Linked DNA regions of Homo sapiens. The gene in region 4 interacts genetically with the main gene of each other region. Each region holds a gene or a part of one and is shown on either strand. Other genes may lie near its edges.

Region 1 (3,254 bases), on a different chromosome or scaffold from region 4:
GGAACTACCAGAAACTGAGAGGCAAGGAAGGATCCCTGTCAAGAATCTTCAGAGGCAGCATGGCCGTCCCACACCTTGATTTTGGACTCCAAGTCTCCAGAATTGTGAGAGAATCTCAGCCTGGCCCAGAAGGCTTCTTTGTGGGGAATGAGAGGAAGGGGGTTGAGAGAGCAGCAGGAATTCACTGAGACCTAAGACTTTGTTTGTTTAAAGCATTAACAAAATCAGTTCGCTTTGGGAAAAGTAGATTTTTTTTTTTTTTTGAGACAGAGTCTTGCTCTGTCGCCAGGCTGGAGTGCAGTGGCGCGATCTCGGCTAACTGCAACCTCTGCCTCCTGGGTTCAACCAATTCCCCCGCCTCAGCCTCCCGAGTAGCTGCGACTACAGGCACCCGCCACCACGACCTTGTGATCCACCTGCCTCGGCCTCCCGAAGTGCTGGGATTACAGGCATGAGCCACCGCGCCTGGCCGGAAAAGTAGATTTCTTAAACATAGAGACTTGCTTTTAAATTGTTTTATTACAATTAAAATTACACAAAAGCAAATCGATTCATTTCAATCAAAATAACTCATGTTTACATATTTATAACTGTACAATAAAATATATAAAATGTTTTCATATTTCATACTTCAATCATCATCTTCTTCCTCTTCATCGCTGATCACATACTTCTTATGCTTTTTATTTGCTTTATCATCATCTTCTGCTTTTCTCTTTCCGGAAGGTTCACCTTCCTAAACAGATACAATTTTTACAAATCTACAAGTCAATAAAGAACATTTTTAGGATGGTTTATGAAAAGTAGCTATGAGCTGAATGACCCTCTGACAACTCAAAGTAACGGTTCCTGCAGGTTGTGAGGGAGATTGTGAGGTGTCAGCAACTGTGAACTAATCTCTCACAGGGAAACCTTTGAACACAGAGTAGGATGTGCAGGAAACTGGAGACAGGATTTGCCACAGAAGGGGCGGGGCTCTCCCGAGGAAGTTCTGCCTGTCTAACCACTGGTCCTGTCAGGATATTTTTACCATGATCAGGTAATTTCTCAAATTTTTTTTCTCTGCCTCCTCAGCATTTCACTTCTTTTCATTATCTAAAATTCAGTATTTTAAAGACTGTTGATTTGGTTTTTTTGGAACAATTTGTTTCAATGCATTAAAAACATCATAAAGGTTTTTAAGAAAATATTTGATGACATTAAAGGGCATCTATAAACAAGTTTCCTCTGTTTAAAATCATTCTGTACAAACGTTCTAACAGAAACAAATAATTTAGGAAGTTACCTAAAAAACATTTTTTACAGATAGATAGAATTTGAACATGTCAGTATCTAAATATCAAATACTGATTAAAACAAACTGACACTAAATGGGATGGGCCGGGCATGATGGCTCATGCCTGTAATCCCAGCACTTTGGGAGGCCAAAGGGGGTGGATCACCTGAGGTCAGGAGTTTGAGACCAGACTGGCCAACATGGCAAAACTCCATCTCTACTAAAAATACAAAAATTAGCCAGGTGTGGTGGCGCACGCCTGTAATCCCAGCTACTCGAGAGACTGAGGCAGGAGAATCACTTGAACCCAGGAGGCGAAGGTTGCAGTAAGCTGAGATCGCACCACTATACTCCGGCCTGGGCAACAGAGCAAGCAAGACTCCGTCTCAAAAATAAATAAATAAATAAAAATTAAAAATTAAATGGGATGAACAAATGGTTTGAAGGTTGAAGTTAGGGAAAGCCAGACATCTTGCTGCTGTGACCACAGGCTGCTAGATGGAGAATGCAACCTGGTATGCCCACTTTTTTCTGATGGTTCTCATGGCTGGCCCTCTGACAGACAAGATAGCATCTCACACTTGTTTCCTGCCTTATTATCCCAAATACATTCCCACAGACCTGAAAGGCCATAGAATTCAAAGGGGGGAAGTTATGAATCCACAGTAAGGTATTTAGAGAAGTCCTCCTCCTCCATTTACTTCCCAGCTGACAGCAGTGAAATACCTAAACAGCAATATTGAAAGATGGACCCTGCCCCCAAGAAGGGACAAGAGCCCCTCCTTTCTATTCTGCAGGCTAGAGCAAACCCAAATACTCCCAGCGCCACAGGCAAAGAGCACATTCAATCACACTACTTGTCTTTTAATTTCCAAAGGAAAAATCTTAAAACGTTTTACATGCAATCACTATTTTTTGGTAACCTTCCAAAAGTGAGCCTTGGTGTGTTTGTCTTTTCAGCTCTAAAATCCTTTAATGAGATGAAATTTGAATCACTAAAAGAACTAGCATGGTAATTCTAAAAGATGGTACAGCCTGTCCTAAAGGCCCCTGGACAGCAGCAGCCAGGAGATGGCCAGGGCTCTCCCAAAGAAGTCTCACTGGCACCAGTCCTAATCCATCCTCTGGAGTAAGAAGCTGTGAAATTCTGCTTTAGAAAGCCTGCCAAGGACCGGCCGGGCGCGATGGCTCACGCCTGTAATCCCAGCACTTTGGGAGGCCAAGGCGGGCAGATCACGAGGTCAGGAGTTTGAAACCAGCCTGACCAAGACAGTGAAACCCCGTCTCTACTAAAAATACAAAAAATTAGCCAGGCGTGGTGGCGCATGCCTGTAATCCCAGCTACTCAGGAGGCTGAGGCAGGAGAATCACTTGAACCCAGGAGGTGGAGGTTGCAGTGGGCAGAAATCACACCACTGCTCTCCAGCCTGGGCGACAGAGGGAGACTCCGTATCAAAAAAAAAAAAAAAAAAAAAAAAGGTTGGGCGTGGTGGCTCACGCCTGTAATCCCAGCACTTTGGGAGGCCGAGGTGGGCAGATCACGAGGTCAGGAGTTCAAGACCAGCCCAGCCAACATGGTGAAACCCCATCTCTACTAAAACTACAAAAAAATTAGCCAGGCGTGATGGCGGGCACCTGTAATCCCAGCTACTTGGGAGGCTGAGGCAAGGGAATTGCTTAAACCCGGGAGATGGAGGTTGCAGTGAGCTGAGACCACACCACCACACTCCAGCCTGGGCGACAGAGCGAGACTCCGTCTCAAAAAAAAAAAAAGGCCTGCCAAGGACTGACTTCTCTGGCAGCTACACATAAGCACAGAAAAACACAGCAAAGGGAATGGGTGCAGTGGCTCATACCTGTAAACGCAGGGCTTTGGGAGGCCAAAGTGGGAGGATCACTTGAGGCCAGGAGTTTGAGTGAGACCAACCTGGGCAACATGGTAAGACATTTTGTCTTTACCAAAAAAAAAAATTATAAT
Region 2 (3,500 bases), 200 kb from region 4:
GCAGCCATGGGGTCCTTCCTGTCCTCCTAGCAGGAGAGGGTGGAGGGGCTTACGTCTAAGATTTCTTTGTTGGCTTTGGGGGATGTGTTTTCCCTCAACACTTTGATGGCCACTGGAATTTTCACATTCTCCCCATCAGGGATCCAGATGCCCTGGGCAGAAAGAGGAGGATATGAGTGAGAAGAGCGTGGGCTGGATCCTACCTGCCTTCCAGGAGATCATTACTTGTCCTCCAAACATCCTTCACCACCCTAGGGCTTGGCCCCGCTCCCTTCTCCGCTGTAACTGCCCTCCCCCAAACACTGCCTCCAGCTCTTGCCCCTCCCATCAGAACTGCCGACCACACCCCTCCAGGCACCGCCCCCATCCTCTGGGGCCGCCCACCCCAGGACCTGGCCCTGACCTTGTAGACTGTGCCAAAAGCGCCAGATCCAAGCACCTTCACCTTCCTCAGCTCCGTCTCTTTCAGGATCCGCATCTGCGCCTGGTTGGGCATCGCTCCGCTAGGTGTCAGCGGCTCCACCAGCTGGGGTGAGGGGGTGGTGGGTCAGTGCCGGGGGCCGGTGCAGACCCCACGCGGGCTGGGAGGACTTCACCCCGCCTCACCTCCGTTTCCTGCAGCAGTCTCCGCATCGTGTACTTCCGGATCTTCTGCTGCCGTCGCTTGATGAGGATCCCAAAGACCACCCCCAAGACCACGACCAGCAGAATGCCAACCACCGCAGAGATGATGGACGTCAGAGGGCTGGGGGCGGAAGCCAGGGTCAGGGATTGAGGGCTAGTTTGGGGTGGGAGGGACAAAGGGGGCCCACGGGGGACATGAAGGTGTTTGGCATTCGGAAAGGGAAGTCGGAAGGGTGACCCACAGGCTTGGACCCTCTCCTACTCTAAAACCTGCCTTGGCTCCCCGCTGCCTCCACAATAAAGTCCAAACTCCTTGTAGGCAATCAGAACCCTCTCCGCATCTCCAGATTCTCTATACTCTTGCCCTTGGCTCTGGCTTAGGGCTTCAACAATTCATGGTGTAAAAATCACTAAGGACTCTGGGCGCGGTGGCTCATGCCTGGAATCCTAGCACTTTGAGAGTCTGAGGTGGGCAGATCACAAGGTCAGGAGTTCGAGACCAGCCTGGCCAACATAGTGAAACCCCCGTCTCTACTAAAAATACACACACACAAAAATTAGCTGGGCGTGGTGTGGGTGCCTGTAATCCCAGCTACTTGGGAGACTGAGGCAGGAGAATCGCTTGAACCCGGGAGACAAGAGGTTGCAGTGAGCTGAGATTGTGCCACTGCACTACGGCCAGTGCAAGACTCCATCTCAAAAAAAAAAAAGTCACTAAGGAGACTGTTAATACACATGCCCCTCAACACCAAGGGGCTACGTCCTGATAAACCAATTCTAAGTTGAAACTGAAAATGCATTTAAGACACCTAGCCTGGCTTACACGTGCTCAGAACATTTACACTGCCAGCAGCTTACAGTTGGGCAGAATCATCTGACACAAAGCCTATTTTATAGTAAACTGTTAAATAAGTTTGTGTTATTTATTTATTTATTTTTGAGACAGGGCCTTGCTGTGTTGCCCAGGCTGAGTGCAGTGGTGAGATCATGGCCCACTGCAGCCCTGACCTCTGGGCTCAAGCAGTCTTTCCACCTCAGCTGCCCAAGTAGCTGGGACTACAGACACACGCCACCACACTCAGCTAGTTTTTTTATTTTTTGTAGAAATGGGGTCTCACTATGTTGCCCAGGCTGGTCTCGAGCTTCTGGCCTCAAAGGATCCTCCCACCTTGGCCTCCTAAAGTGCTGGGATTACAGGTGTGAGCCACGGTGCCTGGCTATGTAATTTATTGAATACTGAAAGTAGGGCTGGGCATGGTGGCTTGAGGCTGAGATGGGCAGATCACCTGAGCTCTCGAGTTCGAGACCAGCCTGACTAACATGGAGAAACCCCGTCTCTACTAAAAATACAAAATTAGCCGGGTGTGGTGGTGCCTGCCTGTAATCCCAGCCACTCTGGAGGCTGAAGCAGGAGAATCGTTTGAACCTGAGAGGTGGAGGTTGCGGTGAGCCAAGACTGCGCCATTGCACTCCAGCCTGGGTAACAACAGCAAAATGACATCTCAAAATAAATAATAAATAAATAAATAAATAAAAATAAAAGTGAAAAACAGAATGGCTGTATGGGTATTCAAAGTACGGTTTATACTGAATGTATATTATTGCTTTTCCACCATTGTAAAGTCAAAAAATCCTAAGTAATATCACAAATCAGCACACAGTCTGTATGCATACAATTTTGGGGCCCCACCCCCAGAGATTCTGACTGCTGCATGGGTACAGGAATGTACACCTGATGATTTTGATGTTCTAGCCAAAATTTCCACCCACAGGTCATGATTTTCCACACCTCCCAGTGTTTGCATAGGCTGTCCCTTCAGCCTGGACCACCATTTCTCCACAGGGTCATCTTTTAAGACTCGGCTCCGCCAGGCACGATGGCTCACACCTGTAATCCCAGCACTTTGGGAGGCCGAGGCAGGTGGATCACCTGAGGTCAGCAGTTCAAGACCAGCCTGGCCAACATGGCAAAACCTCATCTCTACTAAAAATACAAAAATTAGCCGGACGTGGTAGCGCATGCCTGTAATCCCAGCTACTGGGGGGCTGAGACAGGAGGATTGCTTGAACTGCTTGAACCTGGGAGGCAGAGGTTGCAGTGAGCCAAGATCGTGTCATTGCACTCCAGCCTGGGCAACAGAGCAAGACTCCATATCAAAAAAAAAAAAAAAAAAAAAAGACTTGGCTCATCGCCAGGAGTGGTGGCTCACTCCTGTGATCCCAACATTTTGGGAGGCCAAAACTGGAGGATCACTTGAGCCCACGAGTTTGAGACCAGCTCGGGCAACATAGTGAGACCCTGTCTATACAAAAAAAATTTTTTAAATTACCCAGGCGTGGTGGCACGCTCCTATAGTCCCAGCTACTGCAGAAGGGTAACTTGAGCCCAGGAGGTCAAGGCTGCAGTGAGCCTGTGATTACACCACCACATTCAAGACTGGACAAGAGAGCAAGACCCTGTCTCAATCACTCAATAAAAAGATAGCGTATCTGGCTGGGCACGGTGGCTCATGTCTGTAATCCCAGCACTTTGGGAGGCCAAGGTGGGCGGATCTTGAGGTCAAGAGATCGAGACCATCCTGGCCAACATGGTGAAACCCCGTCTCTACTAAAAATACAAAAATTAGCTGGGTGTGGTGGCATGTGCCTGTAATCCCAGCTACTTGGGAGGCTGAGGCACAAGAAGCGCTTGAACCCAGGAGGCAGAGGTTGCAGTGAACCGAGATGGAGCCACTGCACTCCAGCCTGCAGGCAGAGTGAGACTCCGTCTCAAAAAAATAAAAAAAAGATAGTGCATCCTGGGATAGATGGAGCTCCCGGGTGTTGATCCAATATTCTTGTCACCCTCTCCTCTCCATACCCCCTTGCTTAGCACA
Region 3 (3,500 bases), on a different chromosome or scaffold from region 4:
CACTTTGGGAGGCCGAGGCAGGCAGATCACCTGAGGTTAGGAGATCGAGACCATCCTGGCTAACACGGTGAAACCCCGTCTCTACTAAAAATACAAAAAATTAGCCGGGCGAGGTGGCGGGTGCCTGTAGTCCCAGCTACTTGGGAGGCTGAGGCAGGAGAATGGCATGAACCCCAGGGGGCGGAGCCTGCAGTGAGCTGAGATCACGCCACTGCACTCCAGCCTGGGCGACAGAGCGAGACTCCATCTCAAAAAAAAAAAAAAAAAAAAAAAAGAGATGGAGTCTCGCTCTGTCACCCAGGCTGGAGTGCAGTGAGTAGCTGGGACTACAGGCGCCCGCCACCACACCTGGCTAATTTTTTGTATTTTTAGTAGAGACGGGGTTTCACTGTGTTAGCCAGGATGGTGGCGATCTCCTGACCTCGTGATCCACCCACCTCGGCCTCCCAAAGTGCTGGGATTACAGGCACGAGCCATCACGCCTGGCCATGCCTGGCTAATTTTTGTAATTTTTTTTTTTTCTGAGATGGAGTTTCACTCTTGTTGTCTAGGCTGGACAATGGCGTGATCTTGGCTCACTGCAACCTCCGCCTCCAGGGTTCAAGTGATTCTCCTGCCTCAGCTTCCTGAGTAGCTGGGATTACAGGCATGCGCCACCACCCCAGCTAATTTTGTATTTTTAGTAGAGACGGGGCTTCTCTATGTTGGTCAGGCTGGTTTTCAACTCCCAACCTCAGGTGATCCACCCACCTCAGCCTCCCAAAATGCTGGGATTACAGGTATGAGCCACCATGCCCGGCCAATGCCTCCCTCTTTATCTTCCTCCTCTGTCACCTCTTCTTGGTAACTTCATGGGTCCCATGGGGAAGTACCCAACTCGCTGGCCTTAGGGGTCATTCCCTGTTGGGGAGCTTGCCCACTCATCACTGCACCCTCTTCTTATGCTTCATATATTTTAAGCTTCTTTGGACTACTTCATCCCCTCACCTGGCCCCTGTAAACTGTCAGTGTTCCTCTTGGCTGGCACCCTTATCCAGCCCAGCCTCCACAGGTTCCCTCTGCAAACACTCCCTTTCCCCTTGCTGTTGGCAAAATCCCCCACTCTGGTTACTTCCAGCTTTTTTTTTCTTTCTTTTAGAGATAGCGTCTTGGCCGGGCGCGGTAGCTCACACTTGTAATCCCAGTGTATTAGGAAGCCAAGCCAGGCAGATCATTTGAGGTCAGGAGATTGAAAACAGCCTGGCCAACATGTTGAAACCCCGTCTCTACTAAAAAAAAATACAGGCCAGGCGCGGTGGCTCACGCCTGTAATCCCAGCACTTTGGGAGGCCAAGGCGGGTGGATCACGAGGTCAGGAGATCGAGACCATCCTGGTTAACATGGTGAAACCCCGTCTCTACTAAAAATACTAAAAATTAGCCGGGCATGGTGGCATGCACCTGGAGTCCCAGCTACTCGGGAGGCTGAGGCAGGAGAATCACTTGAAATCGGGAGGAAGAGGTTGCAGTGAACCGAGATTGCGCCACTGCACTCCATCCTGGGCGACAGAATAAGACTCCGTCTCAAAACAAACAAAAAAAACCCCCCCAAAACAAAAATTAGCCGGATGTGGTGGCGGGCGCCTGTAATCACAGCTACTTGGGAGGCTGAGGCAGGAGAATCGCTTAAACTCAGGAGGTAGAGGTTGCAGTGAGCTGAGATCACACCACTGCACTCCAGCCTGGGTGACAGAGTGAAACTCAGTCTCAAAAAAAAAAAAAAAAAAGATACCATCTCATACATAGCTCATTGCAGCCTCAAACTCTTAGGCTCAAATGATCCTCCTGCCTCAACCTACCAACTTACTGGGACTATAGGCACACACCACCATGCCCAGCTAATTTTGTTTGTTTTTTGTAGAGAAAGGGTCTCCCTTTGTTGCCCAGGCTGGTCTTGAACTCCTGACCTCACGTGATCCTCTTGTCTCAGTCTCTGCAAGCACTGAAATGATAGGTATGGCTTTCTAGCTCTTTAGTATCACTGCACTTGAGGGCCGAACACTCCTGAAGAGTATTCCCATCTTGCTCCTCACCCTTTTGGAGACGGAGTCTCGCTCTGTCATCCAGGTTGGAGTACAGTGGCACAATCTCGACTCACTGTGACCTCCGCCTCCCAGGTTCAAGCAATTCTTTGCCTCAGCCTCCCGAGTATCTGGGATTACAGGCGCCCACCACCAGGCCCAACTAATTTTTTTTTTTTGAGATGGAGTGTCGCTCTGTATCCCAGGCTGGAGTGCAGTGGCATGATCTCGGCTCACTGCAACCTCCGTCTCCCAGGTTCAAGCAATTCTCCTGCCTCAGCCTCCCGTGTAACTGGGACTACAGGTGCCGGCCACCACGCAAGGCTAATTTTTGTATTTTTAGTAGAGACGGGGTTTCACCATATTGGTCAGGCTGGTCTCGAACTCCCGACCTCAGGTGATCTGCCCGCCTCAGCCTCCCAAAGTGCTGGGATTACAGGCGTGAGCCACCGTGCCTGGCTTATTTTTGTATTTTTTTTTTTGAGATGGAGTCTTGCTCTGTCACCCACGCTGGAGTGCAGTGGCGCGATCTAGGCTCACTGTAAGCTCCACCTCCCGCGTTCACGCCATTCTCCTGCCTCAGCCTCCCGAATAACTGGGATTAAAGGCACCCGCCATCACGCCCGGCTAACTTTTTGTATTTTTAGTAGAGATGGGGTTTCACCCTGTTAGCCAGGCTGGTCTCAATCTCCTGACTTTGTGATCCGCCCACCTCGGCCTCCCAGAGTGCTGGGATTACAGGCGTGAGCCACCATGCCCAGCTAATTTTTGTATTTTTAGTAGAGATGGAGTTCCACCATCTTGGCTAGGCTGGTCTTTAACTCCTGACCTTCTGATCCACCTGCCTCAGCCTCCCGAAGTGCTGGGATTACAGGCATGAGCCACCACGCCCGCCCTTGCTCCCCTCTTCTGAACACAAATCTCCAATGGGCACTTGATGATCCAGACAATTCTGGTTCCCCCTGCTACCTTAATAAGTGTTTATGTGGTATTTTCTCCCTCCTCAAACTTCTATCCCATTCACTGCTGAGACCCTTGCCTGTTCCTTGGTGAGAAAGAGAAGCCATTGGCTGCCAACACCCTCATCTCTGCCCGGGAAGTGCCCCAATTCCTCCTGTTTCCCTCCCAGTCCCTGACCCTGGCAGCGCCCAAGTTCTGGGTCTGTATGCTGGATGGAGCTCATCCCACCTGAGGACTGTCCTCTGCCAGCATCCTCACTCTGCAGCATCTCTTTATTTTATTTTATTTTTATTTATTATTTTTTGTTGAGTCTCGCTCCGTTGTTCAGGCTGTAAAGCAGTGGCGCGATCTCGGCTCACTGCAAGGTCCACTTCCCGCGTTCACGCCATTCTCCTGCCTCAGCCTCCGGAGTAGCTGGGACTACAGGTGCCCGCCACCATACCTGGCTAATTTTTTTGTATTTTTAGTAGAGATGAGGTTT
Region 4 (3,500 bases):
CAATGTATCAACATTCTAGTGTAATAAATGAATTTGGCTGGGCGCGGCAGCTCATGCCTGTAATCCCAGCACTTTGGGAGGTAGAGGCAGGCGGATCATGAGGTCAGGAGTTCGAGACTAGCCTGGCAACATGGTGAAACCTGGTCTCTGCTAAAAATACAAAAATTAGCCAAGTGTGGTGGTGTGTGCCTGTAATCCCAGCTACTAAGGAGGCTGAAGCAGGAGGATTGCTTGAACCTGGGAGGTGGAGGCTGCAGTGAGCCGAGATCACACCACTGCACTCCAGCCTGAGCAACAGAACAAGAGTCTGTCTCAAAAAAATAAATGAATTTGGACATTTCTTTGGAGCAATCAGATTTAGAATTACTACCTACTCATGAACTAACATCCTATCCATTTTTAAGACATGTAGTCTTTCTTAAGAAAATGACCTCCAAAATTTGACATTAAAGCTATAATACTGTCACTGACAAATTCAAAGATAAAATACTTTTTTTTTCTTTTTCTTTTGAGACAGAGTCTTGCTCTGTTGCCCAGGCTAGAGTGCAGTGGTGCAATCTCAGTTCACTGCAACCTCCGCCTCCCAGGTTCAAGTGATTCTCCTGCCTTAGTCTCCCTGAGTAGCTGGGACTACAGGTACACGCCACTACGCCTGGCTAATTTTTGTATTTTTTAGTAGAGACGGGGTTTCACTATGTTGGCCAAACTGGTCTCGAACTCATGACCTCAGGTGATCTGCCTGCCTCAGCCTCCCAAAGTGCTGGGATTACAGGCATGAGCCACCGTGCCAGGCCAGATAAAAGACTTTTTATGTGCTATAATGTGGGATATGAATCTCTGAAGCTCCAATACAATACAGAGGCATTCATAAGATTTTAATTAAATAGAGACATATTAAAAGATCATATTTCTTTTATGTTACTTTAATTTTTTGAGATGGAGTATCACTCTATGGTCTAGGCAGGAATGCACTGGCACAATCTCGGCTCACTGCAACCTCCACCTCCCGAGTTCAGGCGATTCTCCTCCCTCAGCCTCCTGAGTAGCCAGGACTACAAGCATACACCACCACACCTGGTTAATTTTTTGTATTTTTAGGAGAGACGGGGTTTTACCATGTTGGCCAGGCTCTCTTGAACTCCTGACCTCAGGTGATCCATCCACCTCGGCCTCCCAAAGTGCTGGGATTACAGGTGTGAGCGACCGCGCTCGACCGAAAGATCTTATTTCTTACATCAAAATTCAGTAATCTGGCTGGGTGCGGTAGCTCACGCCTATAATCACAGCACTTTGGGAGGACGAGGCAGGCGAATCACCTGAGGTCAGGAATTGGAGACAAGTCTGGTCAACATGGTGAAACCTCATCTCTACTAAAAATACAAAAATTAGCCAGCTGTGGTGCCGGGCTCCTGTAATCCAGCTACTCAGGAGGCTGAGGCACGGGAATCGCTTGAAGCCGGGAGGTGGAGGTTGCAGTGAGTTGAGATTGTGCCACTGCACTCCAGCCTGGGTGACAGAGTGAGAGACCCTGTCTCAGAAAAAAACAAAAACAACAAAAAAAACTGGCAGTGATGCAAACCATTTAAAACTGGGACTGTTGGCCGGGTTCAGTGGCTCACGCCTGTAATCCCAGCACTTTCGGAGGCCGAGGCAGGCAGATTACCTGAGGTCGGGACTTCAAGACCAGTCTCACCAATATGGTGAAACTCTGTTTCTACTAAAAATACAAAATTAGCCAGGCATGGGGGCGCATACCTGTAATCCCAGCTACTCGGGAGGCTGAGGCAGGAAACGCTTGTGGTGAGTCGAGATCACACCACTGCACTCCAGCCTGGGCAACAAGAGTGAAACTCTGTCTCAAAAAAAATAATAACAAAAAAAACCCCAAAAAACTGGGACTATCTCTGCAAGTGTGAGATATACATGGTCACCAGAGACATGCATGATTACAGCTGGAGGAATGGTTAAGAGCAAAAACCAGAGGGAGGCCAAGCATGTGTCTCCTGCCTGTAATCCCATGACTTTGGAAGGCTGAGGCGGGAGAATCACTTGAGCCCAGGAGTTTGAGACAGTCTGGACAACATTGTGAGACTCCATTTCTACAATTGGAAAAAAAAAAAAAAAGGCTGGGAGTGGTGGCTCATGCCTGTAATCCCAACACTTTGGGAGGCTGAGGCAGGCAGATCACCTGAAGTCAGGAGTTTGAGACCACCTTGGCCAACATGGTGAAACCCTGTCTCTACTAAAAATACAAAAAAATTAGTCGGGCGTGGTGGCCTGCGCCTATAATCCCAGCTACTCAGTAGGCTGGGACAGGAGAACTGCTTGAATCCAGGAGATGGAGGTTGCAGTGAGCCGAGATCACGCCACTGCACTCCAGCCTGGGCGACAGAGCGAGACTCCGTCTCGGAAAAAACAAAAAAGGCTGGGAGCAGTAGCTCACATCTGTAATCCCGGCACCTTGGGAGGCCAAGGCGGGCGGATCACCTGAGGCCAGGAGTTCAAGATCAGCCCGGCCAACGTGATGAAACCCTGTCTCTACTAAAAATACAAAAATTAGCCGGGCATGGTGGCGTAATTCCAGCTACTTGGGAGGCTGAGGCAGGAGAATTGCTTGAAACTGGGAGGCGGAGATTGCAGTGAGCCAATATCACACCACTGCACTCCAGCCTGGATGCGAAGAGTGAAACTCCGTCTCAAAACACACAAACAAACAAACAGGCCAGGCACGGTGGCTCACACCTGTGATCCCAGCACTTTGAGAGGCCAAGATGGGCAGGAGTTCAAGACCAGCCTGGCCAACATGGTGAAACCCCATCTCTACTAAAAATACAAAAAAATGGCCAGGCACTGTGGCTCATGCCTGTAATCCCAGCACTTTGGGAGGCCGAGGTGGGCAGATCACCTGAGGTCGGGAGTTCGAGACCAACCTGACCAACATGGAGAAACTCTGTCTCTACTAAAAACACAAAATTAGCTGGGCATGGTGGCACGTGCCTGTAATTTCAGCTTGGGAAGGCTGAGGCAGGTGAATCGCTTGAACCTGGGAAGCAGAGGTTGCGGCGAGCTGAGATTGCGCCATTGTACTCCAGCCTGGGGAACAAGAGCGAAACTCCATCTCAAAAAACAAAACAAAATGAAACAAAAATACAAAAAAATTAGCCGGGTGTGGTGGCAGGCACCTGTAATCCTAGCTACTTGCAAGGCTAAGGCAGGAGAATCGCTAGAACCCGGGAGGTGGAGGAGGCAGAGCAAGATTCCATCTCAAAACAACAACAACAACAACAACAACAAAAACACGCTGGACGCAGTGGCTTACGCCTGTAATCCCAGCACTTTCGGAGGCCAGGGTGGGTCACCTGAGGTCAGGAGTTCGAGACCAGCTGGGCCAGCAAGGTGTAACCCCGTCTCTACTAAAAATACAAAAATTAGCTGGGTGTGGTGGTGTGTGTCTGTAGTCCCAGCTACTCGGGAGGCTGAGGCAGGAGAATCGCTTGAAC

What was found. Genes that interact genetically often act in the same process or in processes that back each other up.
Region 1: changes in CDK12 (region 4) and LEO1 together harm fitness more than expected from each alone (negative genetic interaction), as found in Homo sapiens cells (one large-scale study listed by BioGRID).
Region 2: changes in CDK12 (region 4) and ERBB2 together harm fitness more than expected from each alone (negative genetic interaction), as found in Homo sapiens cells (one large-scale study listed by BioGRID).
Region 3: changes in CDK12 (region 4) and GET3 together harm fitness more than expected from each alone (negative genetic interaction), as found in Homo sapiens cells (one large-scale study listed by BioGRID).

Annotation. Positions count from the first base shown.
Region 1 is NC_000015.10:51,937,525-51,940,778, forward strand, and holds the end of LEO1 (RNA polymerase-associated protein LEO1), read right to left. Parts: intron 762-3,254; coding exon of another isoform or gene 737-761; coding exon 632-736; 3' UTR 501-631; downstream 1-500. UniProt on the Homo sapiens protein: Component of the PAF1 complex (PAF1C) which has multiple functions during transcription by RNA polymerase II and is implicated in regulation of development and maintenance of embryonic stem cell pluripotency.
Region 2 is NC_000017.11:39,720,564-39,724,063, reverse strand, and holds part of ERBB2 (receptor tyrosine-protein kinase erbB-2 isoform a precursor), read right to left. Parts: intron 746-3,500; coding exon 607-745; intron 527-606; coding exon 404-526; intron 153-403; coding exon 54-152; intron 1-53. UniProt on the Homo sapiens protein: Protein tyrosine kinase that is part of several cell surface receptor complexes, but that apparently needs a coreceptor for ligand binding. Essential component of a neuregulin-receptor complex, although neuregulins do not interact with it alone.
Region 3 is NC_000019.10:12,740,497-12,743,996, reverse strand, and holds part of GET3 (ATPase GET3), read right to left. Parts: intron 1-3,500.
Region 4 is NC_000017.11:39,520,486-39,523,985, reverse strand, and holds part of CDK12 (cyclin-dependent kinase 12), read right to left. Parts: intron 1-3,500. UniProt on the Homo sapiens protein: Cyclin-dependent kinase that phosphorylates the C-terminal domain (CTD) of the large subunit of RNA polymerase II (POLR2A), thereby acting as a key regulator of transcription elongation.